Regions from separate parts of the Homo sapiens genome. Here region 1 is linked to region 2. Evidence: fine-mapped expression QTL. Tissue or cell type: pancreas. Region 2 holds a variant in brackets; the other region holds the start of a gene. All regions are shown on one strand. Distances are between the middles of the regions.

What was found. PIP is the estimated chance that this variant, and not a neighbour inherited with it, causes the effect.
Region 1: it holds the start of RANBP17, and the variant in region 2 is fine-mapped to the expression of RANBP17 in pancreas (GTEx, PIP above 0.99).

What each region holds. Positions count from the first base shown.
Region 1 is chr5:170,858,193-170,865,651 of GRCh38, reverse strand. It overlaps RANBP17 (RAN binding protein 17), which reads right to left and starts at 3,634. Exons shown (of 28, transcript NM_022897.5): 1 at 3,601-3,634. The coding sequence starts at 3,618.
Region 2 is chr5:171,058,647-171,066,105 of GRCh38, reverse strand. All of the region lies in intron 14 of RANBP17 (RAN binding protein 17), which reads right to left. Among named protein-coding and RNA genes, the nearest start is that of RANBP17, 200 kb to the right of the region's middle. The variant T/C (reference allele first, on the strand shown) is at 3,992.

The DNA of each region.
Region 1 (7,459 bases), 200 kb after region 2:
TCCTCCCAATTATTCTTCTATAAAGACTCAACTCAACACCTCCCCCTGATATTCACAGACAGTAGATCAAGCAATATTTTCTAACTGTGGCTGCCAGGGCCAGGGATTTCTCAAGCTGCTCTGGGAATGCGAGTAGAGAGTAGTGGGGTCTTAGAAATGTCATGGTTCGATTTGAAAACCACTGGTCCAACAGAGTGGACACAACCTTTGGAATCTGCCACTCACTTATTAAGTGACCTCGGGCAAATAATTTAACCTTTCTAAGCCTTGCTGTTAAAACTGCAAACAGGGCCGGGCGCGGTGGCTCACTCCTGTAATCCTAGCACTTTGGGAGGCCGAAGTGGGCGGATCACCTGAGGTCAGGAATTCGAGGTCAGCCTGGCCAACATGGAGAAACCCTGTCTCTACTAAAAATACAAAAATTAGCAGGGCATGGTGGCTTGCAACTGTAATCCCAGCTACCCAGGAGGCTGAGGCAAGAGAATCACTGGAACCCGGGAGGCAGAGGCTGCAGTTAGCCGAGATTCCACCACTGCACTCCAGCCTGGGCGAGCAAGATTCTGTCTCAAAAAACAAACGACAACAACAACAACAACAAACCTGCAAACAGCAATATCTACCTTCCAAACTAATTGTAGAATGAAGATAGAAAAGATGGGGAAAGCCTAATCCAGTGCCTGCCATACAGAAGATCCACAATAAATCATAAATAATCTCTCCAGTTACTGGTGAATATAAAAGACCATACGGATCTTCCATAGTTTCTCCCATTCAAGTCCACACTGCCAGAATGGTCATTCCCACATACCTTTTCTCATGTTATAATTGCATTTAAAAATAATAGTTCTCAATCACATCTAGATCAAATCAGGTAGCTTGACTGGAGATTAAGAAGCATGGCTATATTTCCTGCTTCTTAAACAGTCCTGAGCAAAAAAGTTGGATCAACTGAGTCCCTTAAATTTTTCCTAACATTCTCTCGATTCTTACCAAGGTACCTCTGTTCTACCTAAAGTGCCTACCTCTTACTTCTTCTCAATTCTTTTTCCTCACTCTGCCCCCTTATCTGGATTGCCTGTCAGGGAATCCAGACCCATTAATTCCTTTGGGACAGGGTATCGTAATTCACAGCTTCCTAACCAGAATGCAACTGCTTTGAATGATTCACAGGTATGCCTGAGATATTGATCCCTCTGCCCTCCAAGCATTAGGAGCAGAGCTTGAGACATTGGGGAAAGTGCACACTGATGGCCTTTGGCAATGAGCGGTTTATGTTAATGAGACACACAATTAACATTTTTTATGTATGTCATGATGTGAAAAAGATGTTGACCACTACCCTAACCTCACCCTACACAAATCTGCTTCTTTACTCATCATCTTGATGGTATAATTTTTGCCTAGCTGCCCTTTTGGGTAGGTGACAGTAAGACAGAGGTAATGGGGAACACGGAACTTATGAGTTATGAGGCCTACTCTAACTCTGTAACGTTGGGCAAGTCACAACTGTTTTAAGACTCAGTGTCTTCAGAATGAAACGTATATATGCACACTTTTTAAGTTAGTGGCAGGGCTCACCTCTATAATGAGGATATGAAAACTCAAAATGCTAGGTACTGGTTATCACTATTAACAAATGTTCCTTGAGTTAACTGATTAACAATATGATCCTATATGCTAAAAAGAATTCAAACGGAGAAATTTCAGTTTTTTTCTAGTCAACAAAACTGTCTGATCTTTTATTTGTCCAACTCCGCTTTTAAGCTGTCTACAGGAATGTACTGTGAAGTACTTATGTTGGAATGTACTGTGAAGTACATTCCTGCAAAACCAATATGGGTAGTTTTGACATCAGCAGCTAACTTTTCCAACACTGTGCCTAAATATGAAGAAGTCTTCCAGGGCTTGGTGATTTAACTGTACATCACCTTTCCATGTATGAAAAAATTCCAAAGTTCCACCATACCTTTTAATTTACTCTCAAGATTTACTCGGGCTCTGTGAACATCTGATTACCTATTTACAATCCATAAATCCTCCTTGTAAGATTCTTCCTGTGAAAATTTCCCAGAGGGCATATTTACTAAAGTGGTAATACATTATTTTGACCTGAGGACCCTTAGAAATGGCATGAAGTCAAAAGGTAATGTGTCGGGCTTACTACATAACATTCTAGAACTGTCGATTATCAGACAGTAACTGGTTTTAAAAAAAAGACCCTTTAGAAGAATCAATAAATCAGCCAAGTTATAAATCAGTGTGATCACAGGGGGTTCAAAAGAGTCTACAAGGGGAATGAGATTCTTAGATACACTGTCACCATATTATGAAATTCCCTTCCCTCCCTGGGGTCATCTCCTGCCACCCACTGCCTCCCCTGATCCCATCCCTTTGTCCCAACCAGACTCAACTTTCTGCAGTACACCATGTTCTTCCACAATTCTTTGCCTTGGCTCACACGTCCTTCTACCTCCATATCCTTCCCTTCCTCTTCACCTGGCAAACAACTACGACTCTTTCAAGGACCAGTAGACTGCAAGTTCCCTGAGAGTAGAAACCATAGTTTTGTTCAGAGCTGTTGTATCTTCAGCGCCTAGCATAGTAGGCGCTCAATAATTAATAAATGGAAGAATGGAGGCTCAAAGAATCTTAAAGCATCTCTCAGCTAAGAGCATAGCAGCTCTGCTTCACTCCTTCTCAACATACACATTTGGCTGGCTACCCCCTTTTCTGTGCTATGATACTGTGACTATTTCTACCATACATTTTTCACTTGTACTGTAATTCTCTGTTAACTGTATGAGGGCGAGGATAGTAAGATGTCATCCTTTATCCCCAGAACTTTCCACAATGCTTGAGACACAGTGGGGAGATAATAAATGTTTGCTGAATAACTGAACGGGGATGTCAGAGCAGCCCGAGGATATACAAGCACGCGTCCCATCTTCGTAGCCTCTGCGATCCTCGCGTCCGCGCCCGCGCCCGCGCCCGGCCCGGGTTTCCTCCTCCGAAGAGGCGGCCGCGTAGCCCTCCCTCGCAACTCCCCCCAGACGCAGCCCCTGTCTCCTCTGGCCAATTAAAGTCCAACCGCTGCCGCCGCTCCTTCGGTGGATCCCAAGCCCCCGCTCCGGCTGGGGCTCAACTGTGTGGAGGGAGGCTGACGATAGAGCCGCGCCGGCGACGCGGCGGGAAGGCGGGAAGGCTGCTCCACCGCTCGGCAGCCGCGCGAGGCGCGCCAAAGCCGGCCCAGCTGGGACTCCCACCTGCCCTGGCAACACTAAAGCCGCGGTCAGCGAGCGTGCTGCCGGCGTCCGCACCTTCCCCGGGACGAGCCCTGGGCCTGTCCCCCGCCCCCTCCACCCGCCGCCTCCAACCCAGGCTCGGCCGCCCCTTTCTCGGGCTCCGGCCCGGGCCTGGGGTGTGCAGCCCAGACCAGTGTCCCGGTCCCCGGCTAGGGGCAGAGGCAGGGGCTGGGACTCCGGGGACACCGGCCCACGGCCCTGCGGCCTCCGCCGCTGTCCTCGGCCCTCGGTCTCCAGACGCGTCCCGCCGGGTTCCCAGCGTGGCGGAGCGCGGGCCCGCGGCGCAGAGCACACTGACCTGGAAGTGCAGCGCCATCTTCCCAGGAGGCGGCGCCGGCCAGCCGGCCGGTCGGCACCCAGCGCCCGAGGGGAGGGAGCAGAGGCGGGCGCCGCGGAAGCCCCAGACGCCCGCGGGGTCCCTGCGCCGCTCGTCCTTCGCAGCCTCAGCCAGGCTTCGCGTCCGCATTCGAAGCGCTGGAGGGGCGGGGCTGGGAGGGACGGGGCGGGGCTGGGAGGGACGGGGCGGGGCGACGGAGGCGGTGCACGGGGCGGGGCCGATAGGGGCGTGTCCTCCGGGAATCTCAACCGTCCCTTGCGCTCAAGTTTCAACCGGCGTGTGTTGGTGGGTCATGACCTCCAACCTCTGCCCTTTGACACAACTACCACGACCCACCCGTCAGCCGTGGACCCTGACTCATAAGTCTTCCAAAGGCTCTCTTGACCCCTGACCCTCAAAATACAACTATCGCCCATGGCTCCCGACACCTGCATCTCCACAGATTTTCTTGTCTCCTAACAGCCAGGAACCACAGACACACACAGCCATAACCTTTGACTCCCACATGCCAGCTGTTGCCCTTGACCCCTGACTCCCAGGGCCCAAATTCCATTGTTGCTTAACAATGTTTTTAACTTGATTTTGGTTAAAATTAAACCGCCCATGTCTACATGCTGTTAAGTTGTAAAATTCAAGCTTTACCTCATTCTTTGTCTGCATTTTGTTTAATATGAACTTATATTTTACAACAAATGATTCCACTGCAATGAGAATTTATTGGAGCAGAATTGGGTCAAAGTTGCTGCTTTCTGATGTTCTCCGTTTTTTCTTCAAGTTCAGCATTTCCATTTGGGAGCACTGTGCTGTAGTATTTAAGAGGGAAACTCCCTTAAGCACTTCTTGTATTCAGGTCTGCTAACAACAAAGTCTCTCAGCTTTTGTTAACATAAAATCATCTTAATTCACCTTCATTTTTTAAAGGATAGTTTTGCTGGGTATAGAATTTCACATTGGCTTTTTTTTTAATCTTTCAGCATTTTAAAAATGTCTTCTCATTGTCTTCTGCTTGTCATTGTTTCTATTGAGAAATCAGCCATCAGTCTAATTGTTGCTCCTGTCTTTTGGCCCCCTCCTCAGGTACTTGAACATTTTTCTCTTTTTTTATTTTTTCTTTTTGTCTTCAGCACTTTGTGCTTGATGTCGCTAAGTGTGTGTGTGTGTGTGTGTTGTATTTATCCTGCTTGGGATTCATAAAGCTCTTTAAGTGTGAATGTAATCTTTTTTATCAAGTTTTGAAAAATCTTGGTCACTAGTTCTTTAAATATTGCATCTGTCCCCTTCTCTCTCTCTACCTCTCCATTCTGGAACTCCAGTTACATGTATGTTATAAGTTTTTGCTATATTCCTTATTTCTATTCTGTATTTTTTATTTGCCTGCTGTCCATTCCATAGAAACTCTGTTCTGCTGTGTCTGAGCTGCTATACATCCCCTCTATTGAATTCTTAGTTTTAGTTATAATATTTTCAGTTCTAGAATTTTCATTTAGAAAGTTGAAATTTTCATGGTTCCTCCTCCTCTCCCATTTTAAAAATAGATTCCAAGGCTTTGATGAAATTCTTTGTCTTTATTTTCTTAAACATTTTAACTGTATTATTTAAAGCCCTTATCTGTTAACTCCAATTTCTGAATCATCTGAGTCTTCCTGGGTTTTTGGTGCTTGGCCCTTGGCCCTTTTTTTTCTTTCTTTTTTTTTTTTTTTTTTTTTTTTTTTTTTTTACATATCTCATGATTTCTTGTTGAATTCAAACCATGTAGAAGAAAATTTGTAGAGGCTCTGGATGATAACAGGTTTCTCCAAGGAGGGCTAAGTTTTCTTGTGGTAGGCAGACAAGAGTACTAGTGGATCATTGAGTCTTTTTAATTCTGGTTAACTTCAGTTATGACCTTACTCCTAGGCCATGGTCCTTACTAGGTCTTACAACTAAAAGCCTAGAATGTGGCTGGGCATGATGGCTCATGACTATAATCCCAGCACGTTGGAAAGCCAGAGAGGGTGGATCGCTTGAATCCAGGAGTTTGAGACCAGCCTGGGCAACATGGTGAAAGCCCATCTCTACAAGAAATACAAAAAATTAGCTTGGTGTAGTAGCATGTGCCTGTAGTTCCAGCTACTCGGGAGGCTGAGGTGGGAAGACCCCTTGGGCCCAGAAGCTATAGGCTGCAGTGGGCCGTGATTGCACCACTGCACTCCAGGCCAGGCAACAGAGCAAGAATCTGTCTCAAAAAAACAAAAGCCTGGAATGTTTACCAAGATCCTTCCACCTTGTGGGGCTTGAACTCTAGTCTCTGTCTCTTCAGCCCTGTGTAGCTGCTGAAATCTTTGTTGAGCTCTTTAGGTGCTGTTGTTCTGCTGGATTTCTTAGAGTCTCTTCATGTGCATGTATATCTTAGGAACGGACACAAATTTGGGGACTCACATCTCTATAGTTTCTTTCTTTCTAGAATTTTGTCCTTCAAATCTCAGTTGCTCTTGTTCCGAAACTCCAGCCTTTGCTCCTAGCCTATTGAGACTGCTGCTTTCTATTTAGCTGTTATTCCTTGCTGCCACTTGGAAAATGCCTTGGGGTGATGACAGGGAGGAGCAGATGGGGAATCTAAGGTAAATTGGAATCTTACCCCTTGTGCTTTCCTTCTTTCAAGATTTGTGGCCACTTAAGTTCTGCCTTTTCTATTGCCTTTAGTTGTTAAAGATACTTATCTGTCGTGTGTGTGTGGGTGTGTGCATGCATGATTGCTGATAATTCATATTTACTCATAGTTTTATATATATTTAATATATGTGATAGAATTGTCATACACACACGTGTCCTATCTTTATAATAGTTTTCAGTGGGAGGTCTAATCCAACATAAGATACTTTATTATTATAAGCCTGTTTGCATCTTCCATGCTTCACCCTTGGTTTTCATAGCTCATCCACTGTCCATAAATCTGCATTTCCACAACTGAACTCCTTTAAACCTTAAAATCGTTAATACCCTCCCCCTGTGTCCCATTTTCACTCCTGTGTCCCAAAGTTCCTGATTCCCATAGTCGTAACTTCCATTTCCATGTCTCAATACTTTTGATATCCAATCTCAACTGTGATTCCCACAACCCAACATATCTGATGCCCACATCCCAAACACGCATCCTGATTTCTGACCTCTGTAAGATGTCTGCTGCACAATACCCCGTTATTTTAACTGCCTGCTGCTTTTGCCTAACTTCTAAAACCCAACCACCTTTTAAAGCTATTGTTTTAAAATGGCATTTTTATCACCTCAAATTTTAGGTCCTTGAGGGAGAAACAATTATTTGAGTTTTGAATCATTTAATTTTTTTCCCACTCCAGAATATTGTCACCAGAAATGTAGGGCTGTGAAAACAACAGAGGATGCCAAGTACTCTGTGGATTCACCAGGCAATTCTGGAAACAAGAAGACAACTTTTTTTCCTTTTTTTTTTTTTTTTTTTTTTTTTGAGACGGAGTCTCGCTCTGTCGCCCAGGCTGGAGTGCAGTGGCGGGATCTCGGCCCACTGCAAGCTCCGCCTCCCGGGTTCACGCCATTCTCCTGCCTCAGCCTCCCAAGTAGCTGGGACTACAGGCGCCCGCCACTACGCCCGGCTAATTTTTTGTATTTTTAGTAGAGACGGGGTTTCACCGTTTTAGCCGGGATGGTCTCGATCTCCTGACCTCGTGATCCGCCCGCCTCGGCCTCCCAAAGTGCTGGGATTACAGGCGTGAGCCACCGCGCCCGGCCTTTTTTTCCTTTTAAAATTTGAGTGGCTGCTTAAGATTTCTGTTTTCAATCAACACTTTCTTACGTGAGTGTCTAT
Region 2 (7,459 bases):
CAGATCACTTGAGGTCAGGAGTCTGAGACCAGACTGATCAACATGGTGAAATCCTGTCTCTACTAAAAATACAAAAAATTAGCTGGGCATGGTGGTGGGCGTCTGTAATCTCAGCTACTTAGGAGGCTGGGGCAGGAAAATCACTTGAACCCGGGAGGCAGAGGCTGCAGTGCACCGAGACCATACCACTGCACTTCAATCTGGGCGACAGAGTGAGACTCCGTCTCAAAAAATAATAAAAATAAACACAAGAATAGCTAGGAAATTAATGAATATAAAGATCTGTGAAAGGTGGGAAAGGAGGCAGGGTAGAACTACTCCAAGGTATAAAAACATGCTACAAACCTCTTTCATTAAACAGTATGGTACTGGCACAAGAATAAGCTATCAAATCAATGGAATAAAATATAATTTCTAGAATTAGATCCAATTACATATAAACATCTAGTATATGATAAAACTGGTATCTCAAATCATTGGGTCAAAGATGCTCTGGTTAATACACAGTGTAGGGCGGGGAGGGATCCCAAAGCCCTGGGCCATGGACTGGTACCAGTCCATAGCCTGTTAGGAACTGGGAGTCACAAAGCAGGAGATGAGCGGAGGGCAAGCCAGCATTATCACCTGACAGCTCCGTCTCCTCTCAGGTCAGCAGCAGCATTAGATTATCACAGGAGCAGGAAACCTACTGTAAACTGTGCATGGGAGGGATCTAGGTTGTGTGCTCCTTATGAGAATCTAAGTGATGCCTGATGGTCTGAGGTGGAACAGTTTCATGCCAAAACCGTCCCCTTCACCCCACCCCCCCATTCTGTGGAAAATCTGTCTTCCATGAACCTGGTCCCTAGTGCCAAAAAGGTTGAGGATGGTTGGTGTAGGGAATACCGGATAGCCATTTGAAAAAAGGTAAAAGTAGATTCATTCCTTCCACTACACCCAAGAATAAACTCCAAATGGATCAGAGATATAAATATAAAAAGTAAATCTATATATGCACCAAAAGAAATAATCAGTGAATTCCTCTAAAACCCATCTGTAAGGAAAGGGTTCCTAACTATGACTAAAATCCTAGATGCAATTAAAAACAAAATAAGATGATACGTTGGAAAATGTGCATAGCCAAAGAAAACTCATTAACAAAATCAAAGGTAACTGACAAAATTGGGAAAAACATTCACAGCATATATCGCAGATAAATAGTTACATTCTTAATAAATCAAGGATTTTTTTTTTTTAAATTGAGGAAAATCAACCTATAGAAATCCTATAGAAAAATGGGCAGGGAGGCTGGGCATGGTCACTCATGTCTGTAATCCCAGTACTTTGGGAGGCAGAAGCAGGCAGATCATGTGAGCTCAAGAGTTCGACACCAGCCTACGCAACATGGAGAAACCCCATGTCTATGAAAAAAAAATACAAAAATTAGCTGGGCATGGTGGCATGTGCCTGGGCACAGTGGCATGTGTCTGTAGTCCCAGCTCCTTGGAAGGCTAAAGTGGGAGGATCACTTGAGCCTGGAAGGAGAAGGTTGCAGTGAGCCAAGATCATGCCACTGTACTACAGCCTGGGCAACAGAGTGAAACCCTGTCTGAAAACAAACAAAAAAACAAACAAATGGGCAAAGATTTGAATAAACAACTCAAAGGAGATATAAAAATGCTTGTTAATTATGTAAAAACATATGTAATTTCATTCATATAAAAGAGAAATGCAAATTAAAATTACAATAAAAGTCAATTTTTTCACCCATCAAATTAGCAACAAATTCAAAAGCTTAAAAATACATTCTAGGACTGGCAGCCAAGATGGCCGAATAGGAACAGCTCCCATCTACAGCTCCCAGCGTGAGTGACGCAGAAGACGGGTGATTTCTGCATTTCCATCTGAGGTACTGGGTTCATCTCACTAAGGAGTGCCAGACAGTGGGCGCAGGACAGTGGGTGCAGCGCACCGTGTGTGAGCCGAAGCAGGGCGAGGCATTGCCTCACTCCAGAAGTGCAAGGGGTCAGGGAGTTCCCTTTCCTAGTCAAAGAAAGGGGTGACAAACAGCACCTGGAAAATCGGGTCACTCCCACACTAATACTGCGCTTTTCCGATGGGCTTAACAAACAGTGCACCAGGAGATTATATCCCGCACCTGGCTTGGAGGGTCCTACGCCCACGGAGTCTCGCTGACTGCTAGCACAGCAGTCTGAGATCAAACTGCAAGGCAGCAGCGAGGCTGGGGGAGGGGCGCCCGCCATTGCCCAGGCTCGCTAGGTAAACAAAGCAGCCGGGAAGCTCGAACTGGGTGGAGCCCACCACAGCTCAAGGAAGCCTGCCTGCCTCTGTAGGCTCCACCTCTGGGGGCAGGGCACAGACAAACAAAAAGACAGCAGTAACCTCTGCAGACTTAAATGTCCCTGTCTGAGAGCTTTGAAGAGAGCAGTGGTTCTCCCAGCATGCAGTTTGAGATCTGAGAACGGGCAGACTGCCTCCTCAAGTCGGTCCCTGACCCCTGACCCCCGAGCAGCCTAACTGGGAGGCACCCCCTAGTAGGGGCAGACTGACACCTCACACGGCTGGGTACTCCTCTGAGACAAAAATTCCAGAGGAACGATCAGACAGCAGCATTCGCGGTTCACGAAAATCTGCTGTTCTGCAGCCACTGCTGCTGATACCCAGGCAAGCAGGGTCCAGAGTGGACCTCTTGCAAACTCCAACAGACCTGCAGCTGAGGGTCCTGTCTGTTAGAAGGAAAGCTAACAAACAGAAAGGACATCCACACCAAAAACCCATCTGTACATTACCATCATCAAAGACCAAAAGTAGATAAAACCACAAAGATGGGGAAAAAACAGAGCAGAAAAACTGGAAACTCTAAAAAGCAGAGCGCCTCTCCTCCTCCAAAGGAAAGCAGTTCCTCACCAGCAACAGAACAAAGCTGGACAGAGAATGAGTTTGACGAGTTGAGAGAAGAAGGCTTCAGACGATCAAACTACTCCGAGCTATAAGAGGAAATTCAAACCAAAGGCAAAGAAGTTAAAAACTTTGAAAAAAATTTAGATGAATGTATAACTAGAATAACCAATACAGAGAAGTGCTTAAAGGAGCTGATGGAGCTGAAAGCCAAGGCTCGAGAACTACGTGAAGAATGCAGAAGCCTCAGGAGCCGATGCGATCAACTGGAAGAAAGGGTATCAGTGATGGAAGATGAAATGAATGAAATGAAGTGAGAAGGGAAGTTTAGAGAAAAAAGAATAAAAAGAAACGAACAAAGCCTCCAAGAAATATGGGACTATGTGAAAAGACCAAATCTACGTCTGATTGGTGTACCTGAAAGTGACGGGGAGAATGGAAACAAGTTGGAAAACACTCTGCAGGATATTATCCAGGAGAACTTCCCCAATCTAGAAAGGCAGGCCAACATTCAGATTCAGGAAATACAGAGAACGCTACAAAGATACCCCTCGAGAAGAGCAACTCCAAGACACATAATTGTCAGATTCACCAAAGTTGAAATGAAGGAAAAAATTTTAAGGGCAGCCAGAGAGAAAGGTTGGGTTACCCTCAAAGGGAAGCCCATCAGACTAACAGCGGATCTCTCGGCAGAAACTCTACAAGCCAGAAGAGAGTGGGGGCCAATATTCAACCATATTAAAGAAACAAATTTTCAACCCAGAATTTCATATCCAGCCAAACTAAGCTTCATAAGTGAAGGAGAAATAAAATACTTTACAGACAAGCAAATGCTGAGAGATTTTGTCACCACTAGGCCTGCCCTACAAGAGCTCCTGAAGGAAGCACTAAACATGGAAAGGAACAACCGGTACCAGCCGCCGCAAAATTATGCCAAATTGTAAAGACCATCAAGGCTAGGAAGAAACTCCATCAACTAACGAGCAAAATCACCAGCTAACATCATAATGACAGGATCAAATTCACACATAACAATATTAACTTTAAATGTAAATGGACTAAATGCTCCAATTAAAAGACACAGACTGGCAAA[T/C]TGGATAAAGAGTCAAGACCCATCAGTGTGCTGTATTCAGGAAACCCATCTCACATGCAGAGACACACATAGGCTCAAAATAAAAGGATGGAGGAAGATCTACCAAGCAAATGGAAAACAAAAAAAGGCAGGGGTTGCAATCCTAGTCTCTGATAAAACAGACGTTAAACCAACAAAGATCAAAAGAGACAAAGAAGGCCATTACATAATGGTAAAGGGATCAATTCAAAAAGAAGAGCTATCCTAAATATATATGCACCCAATACAGGAGCACCCAGATTCATAAAGCAAGTCCTGAGTGACCTACAAAGAGACTTAGACTCCCACACATTAATAATGGGAGATTTTAACACCCCACTGTCAACATTAGACAGATCAATGAGAGAGAAAGTTAACAAGGAAACCCAGGATTTGAACTGAGCTCTGCACCAAGCGGACCTAATAGACACCTACAGAACTCTCCACCCCAAATCAACAGAATATACATTTTTTTTCAGCACCACACCACACCTATTCCAAAATTCACCACATAGTTGGAAGTAAAGCTCTCCTCAGCAAATGTAAAAGATCAGAAATTATAACAAACTGTCTCTCAGACCACAGTGCAATCAAACTAGAACTCAGGATTAAGAAACTCACTCAAAACCGCTCAACTACATGGAAACTGAACAACCTGCTCCTGAATGACTACTGGGTACATAACGAAATGAAGGCAGAAATAAAGATGTTCTTTGAAACCAATGAGAACAAAGACACAACATACCAGAATCTCTGGGACACATTCAAAGCAGTGTGTAGAGGGAAATTTATAGTACTAAATGCCCACAAGAGAAAGCAGGAAAGATCCAAAATTGACACCCTAACATCACAATTAAAAGAACTAGAAAAGCAAGAGCAAACACATTCAAAAGCTAGCAGAAGGCAAGAAATAACTAAAATCAGAGCAGAACTGAAGGAAACAGAGACACAAAAAACCCTTCCAAAAATCAATGAATCCAGGAGCTGGTTTTTTGAAAGGATCAACAAAATTGATAGACCGCTAGCAAGACTAATGAAGAAAAAAAGAGAGAAGAATCAAATAGACACAATAAAAAATGATAAAGGGGATATCACCACCGATCCCACAGAAATACAAACTACCATCAGAGAATACTAAACACCTCTACGCAAATAAACTAGAAAATCTAGAAGAAATGGATAAATTCCTCGACACATACACCCTCCCAAGACTAAACCAGGAAGAAGCTGAATCTCTGAATAGACTAATAACAGGCTCTGAAATTGTGGCAATAATCAATAGCTTACCAACCAAAAAGAGTCCAGGACCAGATGGATTCACAGCCGAATTCTACCAGAGGTACAAGGAGGAACTGGTACCATTCCTCCTGAAACTATTCCAATCAATAGAAAAAGAGGGAATCCTCCCTAACTCATTTTATGAGGCCAGCATCATCCTGATACCAAAGCCTGGCAGAGACACAACCAAAAAAGAGAATTTTAGACCAATATCCTTGATGAACATTGATACAAAAATCCTCAATAAAATACTGACAAACCGAATCCAGCACCACATCAAAAAGCTTATCCACCATGATCAAGTGGGCTTCATCCCTGGGATGCAAGGCTGGTTCAATATATGCAAATCAATAAATGTAATCCAGCATATAAACAGAACCAAAGACAAAAACCACATGATTATCTCAATAGATGCAAAAAAGGCCTTTGACAAAATTCAACACCTTCATGCTAAAAACTCTCAATAAATTAGGTATTGATGGGACGTATCTCAAAATAATAAGAGCTATCTATGACAAACCCACAGCCAATATCATACTGAATGGGCAAAAACTGGGAGCATTCCCTTTGAAAACTGGCACAAGACAGGGATGCCCTCTCTCACCACTCCTATTCAACATAGTGTTGGAAGTTCTGGCCAGGGCAATTAGGCAGGAGAAGGAAATAAAGGGTATTCAATTAGGAAAAGAGGAAGTCAAATTGTCCCTGTTTGCAGATGACATGATTGTATATCTAGAAAACCCCATTGTCTCAGCCCAAAATCTCCTTAAGCTGATAAGCAACTTCAGCAAAGTCTCAGGATACAAAATCAATGTACAAAAATCACAAGCATTCTTATACACCAATAACAGACAAACAGAGAGCCAAATCATGAGTGAACTCCCATTCACAATTGCTTCAAAGAGAATAAAATACCTAGGAATCCAACTTACAAGGGACGTGAAGGACCTCTTCAAGGAGAACTACAAACCACTGCTCAATGAAATAAAAGAGGATACAAACAAATGGAAGAACATTCCATGCTCATGGGTAGGAAGAATCAATATCGTGAAAATGGCCATACTGCCCAAGGTAATTTACAGATTCAATGCCATCCCCATCAAGCTACCAATGACTTTCTTCACAGAATTGGAAAAAACTACTTTAAAGTTCATATGGAACCAAAAAAGAGCCCGCATTGCCAAGTCAATCCTAAGCCAAAAGAACAAAGCTGGAGGCATCACGCTACCTGACTTCAAACTACACTACAAGGCTACAGTAACCAAAACAGCATGGTACTGGTACCAAAACAGAGATATAGATCAATGGAACAGAACAGAGCCCTCAGAAATAACGCTGCATATCTACAACTATCTGATCTTTGACAAACCTGAGAAAAACAAGCAATGGGGAAAGGATTTCCTGTTTAATAAATGGTGCTGGGAAAACTGGCTAGCCATATGTAGAAAGCTGAAACTGGATCCCTTCCTTATACCTTAAACAAAAATTAATTCAAGATGGATTCAAGACTTAAATGTTAGACCTAAAACCATAAAAACCCTAGAAGAAAACCTAGGCATTACCATTCAGGACATAGGCATGGGCAAGGACTTCATGTCTAAAACACCAAAAGCAATGGCAACAAAAGCAAAAATTGACAAATGGGATCTAATTAAACTAAAGAGCTTCTGCACAGTGAAAGAAACTACCATCAGAGTGAACAGGCAACCTACAAAATGGGAGAAAATTTTCGCAACCTACTCATCTGACAAAGGGCTAATATCCAGAATCTACAATGAACTCAAACAAATTTACAAGAAAAAAAAAAAACAACTCCATCAAAAAGTGGGTGAAGGACATGAACAGACACTTCTCAAAAGAAGACATTTATGCAGCCAAAAGACACATGAAAAAATGCTCATCATCACTGGCCATCAGAGAAATGCAAATCAAAACCACAATGAGATACCATCTCACACCAGTTAGAATGGCAATCATTAAAAAGTCAGGAAACAACAGGTGCTGGAGAGGATGTGGAGAAATAGGAACACTTTTACACTGTTGGTGGGACTGTGAACTAGTTCAACCATTGTGCAAGTCAGTGTGGCGATTCCTCAGGGATCTAGAACTAGAAATATCATTTGACCCAGCCATCCCATTACTGGGTATATACCCAAAGGACTATAAATCATG